2 separate regions of the Homo sapiens genome follow, and region 1 is linked to region 2. Evidence: fine-mapped expression QTL. A gene starts in region 2. The other region holds a variant in brackets. All regions are shown on one strand. Distances are between the middles of the regions.

Evidence for each region. PIP is the estimated chance that this variant, and not a neighbour inherited with it, causes the effect.
Region 1: its variant is the best candidate, but not a certain one, in a credible set for the expression of GSDME in lung (GTEx, PIP 0.50).

Annotation. Positions count from the first base shown.
Region 1 is chr7:24,814,144-24,816,643 of GRCh38, reverse strand. It overlaps OSBPL3 (oxysterol binding protein like 3), which reads left to right. Exons shown (of 23, transcript NM_015550.4): 18 at 1-34; 19 at 1,441-1,585. Among named protein-coding and RNA genes, the nearest start is that of GSDME, 58 kb to the right of the region's middle. The variant C/T (reference allele first, on the strand shown) is at 1,498.
Region 2 is chr7:24,755,929-24,758,941 of GRCh38, reverse strand. GSDME (gasdermin E) reads left to right here and starts at 1,478. Exons shown (of 10, transcript NM_001127453.2): 1 at 1,478-1,546. It overlaps LOC124901820 (translation initiation factor IF-2-like), which reads left to right. Exons shown (of 3, transcript XM_047421177.1): 2 at 1,005-1,280; 3 at 1,373-2,618. The coding sequence ends at 2,086. RefSeq lists silencers at 329-478, 1,289-1,868, 1,879-1,928 and an enhancer at 979-1,208.

The DNA.
Region 1 (2,500 bases), 58 kb before region 2:
TTCCAATTGGCACAACCCATGTGACTCTGCCAGTGTAAGTTCTTCTTCTGTGGTTAAGGAGCTTTATGGAATTTAGGGCCAAGATTTTGCTTTGGGGACAGGATGCCCACCCCCGCCCCCGGCAGTTGCATTGAGTGTGTATTTTTTCTTTTAATCTGTCTGACAGTAGGTTTAAATGTTCCTCCTTTTGGCAAGCTCACTTTTAAAAAATGTTTCTCCCTCAAATGGAAATGCCTCCTGGAGACCAAAGTTCCCTGAATAGATGCTTATTAAAAACTCATTTCCACTTCCTAACAAGATTAAGAATGGTGGTTTTAGCTGGGCGCAGTGGCTCACATCTGTAATCCCAGCACTTTGGGAGGCCAAGGCGGGCAGATTGCTTAAGTCCAGGAGTTTGAGACCAGTATGGGCAACATGACAAGACCCTGTCTCTAGAAAAAATACAAAAATTAGCCAGGCATAGTGGTGGCACGCACCTGTAGTCCCAGCTACTCAGGAGGCTGAGGTGGGAGGATCATTTGAGCCTGGGGAGGTTGAGGCTACAGTGAGCTGTGATCGTGCCACTGCACTCCAGCCTGGGTGAAGGGGTGAGACCCTATCTCAATTTTTTTAAAAAAAGTGTTTTTCCTTTATTATGCTGCTTTGCTATCAAAATCCCTTTTAAGAAAAGTATGGCCTTGATCTGATAGGGATGATTGATACTTATTTATAAAGCAAGATGCTTCTGAGCAGGGACTCTGAAACTGGACTGCCGAGATTCACCTGCTCACTCTGGCACTTACTAACAGCGAATCCCTGGGCAAGTTACTTCACCTTTCTCATCACCAGTTTCCCCATCTAGAAAAAGAGAATAATAAACCACCTACTTCCTAGGGCTATTGTGAAGATTAAACAGATAATATACATGAAACACCTAAAATAGTACTTAGCACATTGCATATGTTTTGTAAGTATCTGGTCTTATTATTAATACCATTTTCCTCGTAATTATTGAATTCCATAAGTAATATCTGAATACTTTCTCATCACAAAGGATGCAGGCAATGTATGTTTAGCAGATTGTATAAAACCTTCATCCCTTTCTCAAGCTTCCCTTTCCTAGTTCAGCAACATTAGACAAGCCCCTCTGGCTCTGAATTGCCTCCTCTGTCAAAGGAGGGAGTGGGCTGTTCCAAGAGACCACCAGCTTCTAGTGAAGCCTCTGGTAGCTTCCAGAGTGCAAAGTCTGAATGCTGTCATTCTCTGTGGCATGCATGCCTCCTTGGAGAGTGGAAGCTCCTAGAACATCCAGTGTGACATAGACACTTAGCCAGTGTTGCTTCTGTGAATAAAGAGATGAATAATGCATTGCATGACTTATTTTATAAAAGAGCAGAGTTTGTTTGCATTTGCTGCTGGCTCTTCTAGAAATTGGTACTTCTACTTTTTCCTTCTTTTTAGTTTTGGGGATCATTTTGAGTGGAACAAAGTGACCTCTTGCATCCATAACATCTTAAG[C/T]GGGCAGAGGTGGATTGAGCACTATGGAGAGATTGTCATCAAGAACCTGCATGATGATTCCTGCTACTGCAAAGTGAATTTTATAAAGGTAACTCCAGTGACTCTCTGAGCTCTGACCCTGGAAGGGCTGTGGCAGAGCCAGGGCCCCAGAGCACAGGGCATTTGAGAGATTTTTCGCCTTCACCTTTATGCCAGCAGGCAAGCAATGCCTGAGCTCCTTGGTCCCAGCTGCACCTCTGTCACCTAGACCAGGGCAATGGCCCCTCCTGGCCTCTTACTCCCCTAAGGTCTGTCCTCCATACAGCAGCCAGAGAGACCCTTTTAAAACATAAATCACTGTGCTGCAGTATGTATGCACCTTGACAGCATTATGTTGAGTGAAATAAGTCAGCCCCAAAAGGACGAATATTACATGATTCCACTTCTGCGAGATCGCCAGAGGAATCCAGTTCACAGAGAAAGAAAGCAGAATGGTGGTCGCCCGGGGCTGCAGGAGGGAGGAAGGGGGAATTAGTGTTGAATGGGTATAGAACTTCAGTTTGGGAAGATGAAAAAGTTCTAGAAATAGATAGTGGTGATGGTTGCACAGCATTGTGAATGTATTTAATGCCACTGAATGGACCCTTAGAAATAGTTAAAATGGTCAATGTTACATTAGGTATGGTTTACCAGACTTTTTTTTTTTTTAATGTCATGCTGTATCATTCCTTTGAGCAAAATCCCCCAACAGCTTCCATCTTTCTCAGAGTTGAAGCCTGCATCCTTATGGTGGCCTGTCGGGCGCTGCACAGGCTGTACTCCCCATCTCCACCCTTTCACACACATACTTGCACACTTGCAGATACACCCATATACACACACGCCACCTCGTTCCTCTCCAACCTGAACTTCTCTTTTTCCTCCCTCTTTTTCCCCACTGTCCTCTGGCCACACTGGCCTTCTTTCTCTTTCTTCATTTCCTTCTGCTTGGGCAGCTGTCCCCAGATCCTTCCATCACCAGCCC
Region 2 (3,013 bases):
ATTATTTACTGGATAGCTACCATGTGTCAAATCCTAAACTAGGTGCTGGGCATAGGGAACAAAACAGACCAGCTGCCCTCATGCTGCTGACATTTTACAGGAGAGGATAATACATGAAATAAGAGGCACACAGTCTATCAGATGGTGGTGAGTGCAAAGAGAAAAATAAAGCAGAGGAGGAACTAGGAGGTGTTCCCGTGGGTGGGTGGGCAGCACTTTTAATTTGGATAGTCAGGAAAGGCTTTACAGTGAGGTGGATAATTGCAATCTAGAGATATGTTTAAAGCATAGCGGGGCCCAAGGGAAAGCGCTGCCGGGCTTCTCTACCTGCCCTCCCCGAACAGCCTTTAAGACAGCCACACAACTCCATACTGTGTGAGCTCTCGCAGGGCAGAAATTTCATTTTCTCTTACTCTTTGCTCTCAGCTTAGTAGAGAGCATTGCACAGTGAAGACGATACACTGACTGAAAGTGTCACTGAGCAATGGGCTCGTAACCTGAGGCACACAGAAACCAAACTGTGGCACAGGCTTTTGAGAAAAGAAAAACTTCTATTGCCAGTCAACTGGCAAGGAGACAAGAGGCAAAGCTTAAATCTGTCTTCTGGACCTGGGAGCGGGTCAGGCGTTTTTGGCATTTCTAACCAGTCCCAGGTGATGCCAATGCAGCCTTCTGCGGGGCGCGCGGTGTTCACAATTAGAAAGCTTTCCCTCTTGCACACGCCCGGGAGATTTTGGCTCTGCCTCGCTGTAACAACTTAAGTAATGGTTAATCGGTTTCAGCTGGTCCTAATGTTACAAAAAGAGCTAATATTTAAGTCAGTTCATCAGAAAGCAATGTTTGAGCACCAGCTATGCTGAGATTCCCTCGTTCAGTATTCGTTGAGCACCCAGTGTGTGAGAGCGCCTGGTTTTGCCCTCAAGGAGCTTAGAGTGGAGTTTACAGGAATGAATCACTGATTAGCGGCAGGCCTAAGTGTGGGCACTGTCGCACCACACACCCAGATACTACTCCAGGCACGGGCATTAGGGGCTCCCACAGGCTGGACAGGCCTTGGACTTTCCTGGTTGAACCGTGAGGCCGCGGTGTCAGTCCACACTCCACTGTGGGTGGCGGGTTCGGCCCCGCGAGGAGGCGCCGCTCTCAAACCCCACGGTCCCGCGCAGCGAAGAGGCGAGGCGGCCGCGGAAGGCAGGCGCAGCCCACTCTTCCCGAGAGGCCCCGACATCTCCCGGGTGAGTCCCGAAAAGCGCGCGGGGACTCCGGCTGAGCGCTGGGCCGTCAGCAACCCGGCTCCCAGAGAGTCACACGAAGGAGGGGAAGCGGCTCTCTCTGGGGCTTCTGGGAGGTCTGGCCCGGGCCCCTCCCGCAGCCTCCGGCGGCCAGTCCCGCGGCTCTGGGGCGCCCGGACCGAGCAAAGGTCCCGGCGGGCGGGCCCTCTCTCCGCCCTCCCCAAGCGCCCGCCCCCCGCCGGCCCAGCGCAGGCTCCTCCGACTCCGCCAGCGCAGGGGGCGCGGCTGCCGGGGACCCAGCAGCGGGCGCGCGGGTAAGTGCGCGGCGGGCGCGGGCTGCGGGATCCGCTCCGGGCTCCACTCCGGATCCTCTTTGGTCTGTTTGGGTGTCCCGGGCCGGGGGCAGCCGAGGCCGCGCGGCGCTTTCTCTCTGGGCCACCCTCCCCTCGCTCCTTCCTAGGGGAGACGAATCGATTGGCTGCCCGGCCGCCGGAACGGCAGGTCCCGTCGCTCCCCTCGCCTCCCGCATTCCCGGCCCGGTCCCCTCCCATCACCGCGTCCCGCCCCAACTCGCAGTCAGCATCCCCTTCCCATCCTCTCCCCGTCCCCGCTGCCACTTCCTTCCTTGGATGTTGGAAGCGCAGCTGGTATTTTCGTTCTCCCAACCCCCCAAACCCCCCCTCCCCATTCGTTCATCCTTTGTGTTCCGGTCTCTTCTCTGGGTGCTGCGGAGGCTCTCCCGGCTCGGGGGCGTGTGTGCAGGGAGGCGGACCGCGGAACAGATACGGAGTTCAGTCTCTCTGGACGGAAAAAAGTCCCCCTCCACTTTGCTCCGGTATCTAGAGAGCTCCTAGCTTGGGGAGGAGGCCAAGCCCCACTCGGTGTGCCTGGCATGCGCTGGAATGGCTCTCAAGAGCTGCCCGCGTGGCTTCCTTTGGTCTCCATTTGAGGACCTCTGACCCTTTCCAGAGCCGCTTGCCGTCTGCACCCCGAGGGGAAAGACTAGAGGGCACCTCTTAGAAAAGCGCTGGTTGTGGACTGAACACACCGACCACCCACTCCTCCAGAGTCTACTCTGTCCAGAATAGTGAATGGGATAATGAAAGGGATGGATGGCTTGCGGTCGCTGTCCTCGAGACGCAGGCAGGTGGGGCAAGTCCAAGTGGAATGAAAGGAGTGCTGTGGGGTTGGAGAAGCAGCTGAAGAGTGAAATTAATTGTCTTCACAATCTACCACCACCAAGCTCTTTTTCTAAAGGAGAAGTTGAGCCCAGACCATTAGGTAGATCTGAGAGAGAAAGGGCCCAACCCCCTAGCCACGGTCCCTTGGCTAGGTTCTTTGTTATTGTTGAGAGAGGGTCTCGCTCTGTCACCAAGGCTGGAGTGCAGTGGCACTATCCTAGCTCACTGCAGCCTTGAATTCCTGGGCTCAAGGGATCCTCCCATACACCCGTAGCTGAGACCGCAGGTGCCTGCCACCACACCGCATCTTCTCTATTCTTACCCAGACTGCCCTCTGTTACCCACTCCACTTCCCCAAAGCCTTTGGCGCCTCACTCTCCTTCTCCTTTCGAGCTCCTGCCTGTCTTATGACCATCATTGCGTTCACATACCGATTTTTATTTTAGAAAGAAATGATGAAATATTAATTTGTCTTCTCATTAAAAATGAGCTCAGGTACTGGGCTGTAGGGATAGGAAGATAAAAGATGCCACCTCTGTTCTAATTTAATAGACCCAATTGCACTTTGCTATCTAGAAAACTAAAACTAATTCAAAGTAT